2 linked regions of the Homo sapiens genome follow. The protein of the gene in region 1 interacts with the protein of each later gene in a pairwise test. Each region holds a gene or a part of one and is shown on either strand. Other genes may lie near its edges.

Region 1 (3,751 bases):
ATGAATTGACAAATCTGCAAGAACTACTCATTTCAGCTGTACAGGCTGCCAGCCACATTCAGCTTCAATTGCATTAAGCGTGCTCCTAGCCCTATGCCGTAGAAAGTCCACTGGACCAGGTGACCAGGCCCAACCTTGCCACTTAATCTGTGACAGCCTCAGGAAAGTTATACCATCTTTTTGAATCTTGGTTTCCTCATAGGAGGGATAAAAAGAAAAAAAAACTTGAATGAGATAGTTGCCAAGTTGTCTTGATAGTTGCCAAGTTGTCTTCAAATTCTAATATATGATTTAATACATAAGCCTCAAGACTTTTAATCCCTACAAGATTATTCTTTTTGCCCTCTTTTGGACTCTTCCTCTACTTATTACACACCTCACCCAACACTAAGCAAGTGCCTTTAATACCCACATAGCACTATTGTGGCCAGAACTAAAAGTGAAAGTTAAACAGTCTTTTTGAAATATACTTTCTTGTGAGTACAGGCGAAAGAGTAGAGAAAACCACGACTGCTTTTTTTTTTTTTTTTTTTTTGAGACAGAGTCCCACTCTGTCACCCAGGCTGGAGTGCAGTGGCGCAACCTCAGCTCACTGCGGCCTCCGCCTACCAGGTTCAAGCGATTCTCGTGCCTCAGCCTCCCCAGTAGCTGGGACTACAGGCCGCGCCACCACGCCCGGCTAATTTTTGTATTTTTAGTAGAGATGGGGTTTCACCATGTTGACATCTGGTTGAACGTTGGCCAGGCTGGTCTTGAACTCCTGACCTCAGGTGATCCGCCCGCCTCGGCCTCCCAAAGTGCTGGGATTACAGGCGTGAGCCACCGCGCCCAGCCCGACGACTGCTTTTTCAACAAGCTTCCAAAAAAGTGAAACCCTAAAGCACTTCTCTCCGTTACCCTGTCCCACAGTCTCCACCGAAAGCAGCCCAGACCTCAGGCCCATTAGTCTGCAGTGACCGCGGTCTCAGGAGACGGGCTCCTACCGTGGCGTCCGGGATCTGAAGTCTGCGTATAGTCCAGGGAGTTGGGCAGGCTCTGGCTGCGGCCATGACGCTGGGTCCGTTTCCATCGCTGGCTGTAAAGGAGGCACAGGAATCCAAGGCCGGCGGCGGTACCCAGCAACAGTCCCAGCCCGGCACGGGCACCACCCAGGGCTCCCAGTCTAGACATGCTGCACCTGCGGCCAGCAGAAGTCACCGGGAGCAGGCAGGCGGGCGGGCGGGCGGGGGTAAGGAGAGAGAGAGATTCGTGAACCCGGTAAACCCACCCTCAAGGCTGAACCCCGGCAGGTATCCCCTTGCCCAAACCCTGAGCTCTCGACTACGTGCACCCCAGTCTGAACCCTAAGGCTTCCTCCAGCCTCCTGGGCCCCACTGCCTCTCTTCTCACCCAGCCTGGACGTAGCCGCCCCTCCAGTACACCCCCCGACCCGGGTCACAGAGTCCGGCTTCTGGGCCTTCAACCCCCACCTCAGCCTCACGACACTGCAGACCACAAACCCGGCGCCCTGGCTGCAAACTCCTGGCCTTCCGCCGCGGCCCCCGAAGGCGCTCTGGCCTGGCAGGAGATCCACTCAGACCCTTACCCGGCCGCCAGCCACCATGGCAGCAGCCGCCGCGGGCTCACGCTGTCAGTGACCGTGACGTCAGGCAGGCGGCGCCAGGTGCTCGGCGCCCTGCGGGAAGGCGCAGAGAGATGACCGCGCCGGCCCCGCCCCTTGTCTGTTTCCCTCAGGGGCGGGGCCACGGGCGCCGCCGGAGGGGCGGAGTCAGCACAGAGCGCGAAAGGAAAGCAAGAAGGGGCCCAAGACAGGGGAAAGGCGGGAAGGCAGGGAGACTTCTTGGGCGGACGCTCGCGCAGTCACCCTCACCGTCCGGCAGCCAGGCCTCCATTTCCCTCCGGTCACACCGGCTTAACTTGCTGCTCCCGGAATACGCTCAGCATATTCACACTTTCTACCTGCGCTTCTGCCTGGACCTCCCCTCTGTACCTGGAAAACGTCACGCTCTCCCCACATTTTATTTTTATTTTTATTTTGTAGAGACTGGGTCCCGCTCTCCTGGTCTCTCAAAGTGCGATCCGCCCGCCTCGGGCTCCCAAAGTGCGTGAGCCGCCGCACCCGGCCATAAATCTTAAACCTAACGTGCTGTCTTATAATTCTGTTTTACTCTTGTAATTGTATGCAACTTCTTATAATTGTGGCAACTAAAAAGACCGATTTTATGGACTATGATAACAATTTTATTGTGAACATTTCTTAAGAGTTAAAATTTAGTTTAGTGAAAGAAATATCTAGGCCAGTCCTCCCAATACCCTTGACTAGATCTTATATTTATTTACCCTTTAATTGTGAGATATTGTATACATATAAGAATACAGGAGGCCGGCCGTGGTGGCACGTGACTGTAGTCACAGATACTCTGGGGGCTGAGATGGGAGGATCACTTGAGCCCAGGTCGTCGAGGCTGCAGTGAGCCATGATCACTCTGGGCAACAGAAGTCAGGATATCGAGGCCACCCAGGCCAACCTGGCGAAACTCCGTCTCTACTAAAAGTACAAAAATTAGCTGGGCATGGTGGTGCACGCCTGTAATCCCAGCTACTCGGGAGGCTGAGGCAGGAGAATTGCTTGAACCCAGGAGGCAGAGGTTGCAGTGAGCCGAGATCTCGCCACTGTACTCCAGCTTGGGCAACAGAGTGAGGCCTCCTCTCAAAACAAATAAACAAAAACAACAACAACAAAAAATATATTTATATATATATAAAGTATATATATATATATACACTTTATTTTGGAGGAAATAAAAATTTCCTCTGGAAACCTTCCCAGATCACCACCTTGGTGAAATTAAGCTTTTCACCCTGCTTTGCTCCTGTGGCTCTATTGCCTCCATTATACTTTTTTTTTTTTTTTAGACGGAGTTTCGCTCTTTTCGCCCATGCTGGAATGCAGTGGTGCGATCTCGGCTCACTGCAACCTCCTCCCCCGCCCCTGGGTTCAAGCAATTCTCCTGCCTCAGCCTCCGGAGTAGCTGGAATTACAGGCTTGCACCCCCACGCCTGGCTACTTTTTGTATTTTCAGTAGATACCGGATTTCTACATGTTGGTCAGGCTGGTCTCGAACTCCTCACCTCAAGTAATCTGCTTGCCTCAGTCTCCCAAAGTGCTGGGATTACAGGCGTGAGCCACCGCACCAGACCCATTACACTCTGTTCTGTGATTATTTGCTTTCTACTCTGTCTACACCACTGGACTGCCCACTCTTCCAGGATGGGGTTCACTCCTGATTCATCCCAGGTCCCCTGTGCCTGGCACAGCTCTAATGCAAAAGCATCCATAAAAGCTGAATGGAGGAAGGAAGAAAAGAAGGCGTGACCGACAGCACGCCCTGCCACTTTGACAGTGTGTTCTCAGCTGTGGCAGAAAACTCAGTGGCAGAACAATAATTTCTCCTCTCTACGGGGGGGAGGCAGCTCTGTGAGATAAACGGATTGTGATGAGAGGCTAGGCCAAATGGGCAGACCAAGCAGGGGAATTCATTTCCCCCTGGATATTAAAGATGTTATCTGGCAGGCACGTGTCTGCCAGGGCAATCAGCAGTGTGGTGGGTGGCTCTGGACAGAGCTCTTTATCTTGTGCTGCATCTGCAGACTAGCTTTGCAAATGTAATAAAGGCCTGGCTGCCTGAGATATGCACTGCCCACCTTCCCACCCCCTCCACAGCCCAGCCTGAGAAGAGAGCAGACCAGA
Region 2 (3,751 bases), on another chromosome or scaffold:
ATAGACAACCTTCATAATTTGTTATGAAAATTAATAATGTACCCCCCAAAATACTGTACCCAATTTGTAGTACATTATTAAGGCAGCCCTAGGAACCTAATATAACATATAGCAAACACTCAAGAAATTGTTATTTTATTAGTCTACTCAGGCTACTTACGACTCCCCTTTGCAGAAGTTTATGAGGACCAAGCCCAAGAATTTCTGGTTAGCCGGAAATGGAGGTTGAGTCTGTGGATGTCAGGTAGTGTGCTTCCTATCCATGAAAATCCAAAACAGGGTATGAAAGTGGAGTGTGTCTAACTCAAAACCCATGATTAGGAAGCACAGTGGGAAAAGAGCTGGCGAGGTAAAGCTCAATACCAAGAGCAAGAGTCAGGAGTCAGATCTTAAGACAAAACAAAGAGTCAGAAATCCAAAAGTAACTAGTTAGAACAGGAGGCACATGAGGATCATTGGTAAATGTTACAATGATTGCTTAAAAAAGAAATAAGTTAGCTTAGCTGGGCTCATTGGGCTGGCCAGATTATGGGTGTGTTGCGTATGAATGTGTTGGACTCACCTCTGTATCTATAGAGGTGCTGTTTAATATGGTAGCCACCAATCATGCATGGCTGCTTAAAATGAAATTAAGTAAATTTTAAAATCTGGTTCTTCAGTAGCACTAGCTGCATTTAAAGTGCTCAATAGCTACATTTTACTGTATATTACAGAATATTGCCCTCGCAGCAGAGAGTTCTATTAATAGCTCAGGGTCTTCCATGGCCACGATGCCAAAGTACAAGCAGAGATCTAAATTCTGAGTTCACCCTACATTTTCAAATCATCCTAGGTTTACAAAACTGCTTTGACAAATGGTATCAGAAAGGGTCAAGTACATGTAAAACTTTACACAGACAAATAATGGGTGCTTAGCTACAGGTCCATGTTTTCCAAGTGTAGCGCTGTTCAAGCACCAGCAAAAACATTCTCAGATCACGTTGTCACAAACTCTCTTTACTGCTGTTTATTGCCTCATCTCCTGAATGTTAAAGGGAAGCAAGTCAAAACACCTGCGATGATCAAGTGTTTGTTTAGTATGAAATTAGGACTTCCTGCCATTCTAAACTTGAAAAGCCGCAGTCCACAGTTATCAGTCTATAAGCTGTGATATGTGTCTAGCAGCCCTTTCAGTGAAGGCTGGCCACCCTTGCTCAGCTCTCCAATTTCCTCTACATGGATGTTCTCAACCAGTGTGAAAATGTGGAATTGTGGCTATTTGTTCACATGATTTGCACAAAATATTCAGCCGGAACCTCCTCCAGCTGATAGAAGGAATAACACAGAGGAGAAGAATTGAAGTTGCAGAGTGTGGGGGTTGTGGGGGTGGGTTAGGGAGGGACTGTAAAAATGAGTCAAAGTAAAAACCCTTATCAATACCTAGATGATGGGTTGATAGGTGCAGCAAACCATGACGGCACACGTTGACCTATGTAACAAACCTACACATCCTGCACATGTACCCCAGAACTTATTAAAATTAAAATTAAAATTTAAAAAAGCATACAGTCAAATGTGTTATATACCAAATTTAGAGACCTCCAAGTTGTTTATGCTACTTGGTTAAGTTATTTATGTCTGTTTTAGTGCATACATGTTATTTGAAATCCCTATAATTATGAGTTGAGAAGGCTGGAATTTGCACTAGACTTCTTCTCTCCCTTTCTTAATCAGAGTGGATTCATTTGTCTATTGTGAAATTATTTAAGGAAGCACACGTGAACCACATTTAATAAATGGCAGGCAAGGCTCAGGCACATGTTTCAGCACGTGTTTGCTTTCCTCCTGTTACAACAGTCAACTGAGCAATAAAGAATGAATACACACACACACACACACACACACACACACACCCCTTATCATGACCTTGGCTACTGCCTATACAAGAGTAAGCAGTTATTCAGTGAAGGAACCAGCGCAAGAAAGGAGAAAAAGTAAACTTTCATCTTCTCCTCTTCCTTCTCCTCCTCCTTTTTTGCATTATTGTTGATTGAGCGAGCAAGATATTCAATTGGACCAATGGCTGAATGGCTAAATGCTGTGTGTGAGCAGGAAAGCCTATATTCTATTCCTGAATCCTCTATAAGAAGTTCTTCAATCTCTATAACTCTCTTGGGTGCTCTGTGCCTCATTTTGCAATATGGCAGAAGCTTTACTCCTATCCTCTCTTCCAGGGATGCAGAGTAATTTAATGAATTGCGTTATGTCTGTCACCATACACAGAGTCCCTGAGGCTGGGGCAGTTGCTGAAGTGATACACGTGTTCCTGTTGTCCCAGAGGACTAGAGATAGCACCATTAATCTGTCTGTTATCTGAATTAATATTGAAAACACACATTCCCACATACACATTTGTTTTATCCTGTGCATCAGAAATGTGTCTCTAAGGACTTTCCAACAAGGCTTTGCTTCGTGTCTTCCACTTTTACCCTTGGTTTGACTTTGCAGCACCAGCCTGCTGTTATTGCTCACTCTATGAACCGTACCTGCTCGGTGCCATCCAAATGTCAGCCGCTTAGAGGGAGGCTTCGATGACAACCACAGGGAGAAGAGACTGAGCAGGAAACTGGTCAGGTCAATTAAGAGGTGGGCAGCATCTGTGACAACAGCAAGACTCCCAGCAATGTGCCCACCTAGAGAATGCAAAATAGTACACTGTGTTAAGGTCCCAGAATGCAGCTAGATTCACAGACATGCTAACCATCATGGGTGAAAATGCCACAGACTCACAAAACTTTAGAGGAAAAAGAGATCTTAAAGTTGATTTAATTCACCCCTTCTGCGACTCAGAGAGGGGATATGATTTGAACATGTAGAAATCAATTTCAAAGGAGAAGCCATTCCTGGGGTAGAAAAGACATAGAGACTAGAAAGTGTGGGGCAGGCACATCTGGAGAACACCTTAATTAGACTGGGTATAAGGATTCAAAAGAGGAGAATACAAGAGAATCAGGCTGAAGCAGTGCGGGTCAGATTCAAAGAGTCTCATAATCCAGACTGAGGACATGGACTTTTGTTTATAAACTAGATGTTGCGATCTGGCCCACAGATGTGTTTTTATTTGACTTATAATTTAATCAGCATCTTTACCCTTTCCTTTTTCTCTATTAATATATATTATCCACCTGAGCTTGAAATCCCTGTAAGAAATAACAGGGAGCAGAAAGGAGAAAGGGCAGGTACCTTCCAATGGGCGTCCTCAGTGCTACAATCCAATAAAGCATAGGGATGCAATGTAAGCCATGAGAGTCCTGCCTGGCTTTTCCCTTTATTTGATGTGCTCCCTCTACTTCCCTCTAATCCTCCTTTGAGAAAAGACCTCCAGCCTCCAAAATAGAAGTTAAAGAAAAACCTTGCCCTTTCCTTCCCAGACATGGTTTGTTGTTTGAGAGCAATAACCTTTATTGCTCTTACTACATCTTCCCAGCAAAGGGCTTTTGCTGACTGATTAGTTCTCCCTACAGCTGTTTATTGCCTTGTGTACTACAAAATAGCAGAGACTGTCAGCCATCAGCCCCGCCATCATCAGACTCACCTTGTCTCGCCTAATTTTTAAAAATTACATAGATGGCTCATAATTGCAATAATCCCCACAGGCCATTGGCTCTAGCCGTAGTTAATAACTGGTTTGTCAAGGTTTAATGGGCTGAAGCAAAGTAATCTTCAAGCTTGTTACTGAACAGTCACTGCAAAAATCAGAATGATTCATTAC

What was found. Proteins that work in one complex are often made in the same cells at the same time.
Region 2: the proteins of RMDN3 (region 1) and SLC30A8 interact in binary tests that used the Homo sapiens proteins (3 or more experiments, as listed by UniProt).

What each region holds. Positions count from the first base shown.
Region 1 is NC_000015.10:40,753,614-40,757,364, forward strand, and holds the start of RMDN3 (regulator of microtubule dynamics protein 3), read right to left. Parts: upstream 1,642-3,751; 5' UTR 1,470-1,641; intron 1,178-1,469; 5' UTR 1,171-1,177; coding exon 984-1,170; intron 1-983.
Region 2 is NC_000008.11:117,151,865-117,155,615, reverse strand, and holds part of SLC30A8 (proton-coupled zinc antiporter SLC30A8), read right to left. Parts: intron 2,673-3,751; coding exon 2,526-2,672; intron 1-2,525. UniProt on the Homo sapiens protein: Proton-coupled zinc ion antiporter mediating the entry of zinc into the lumen of pancreatic beta cell secretory granules, thereby regulating insulin secretion.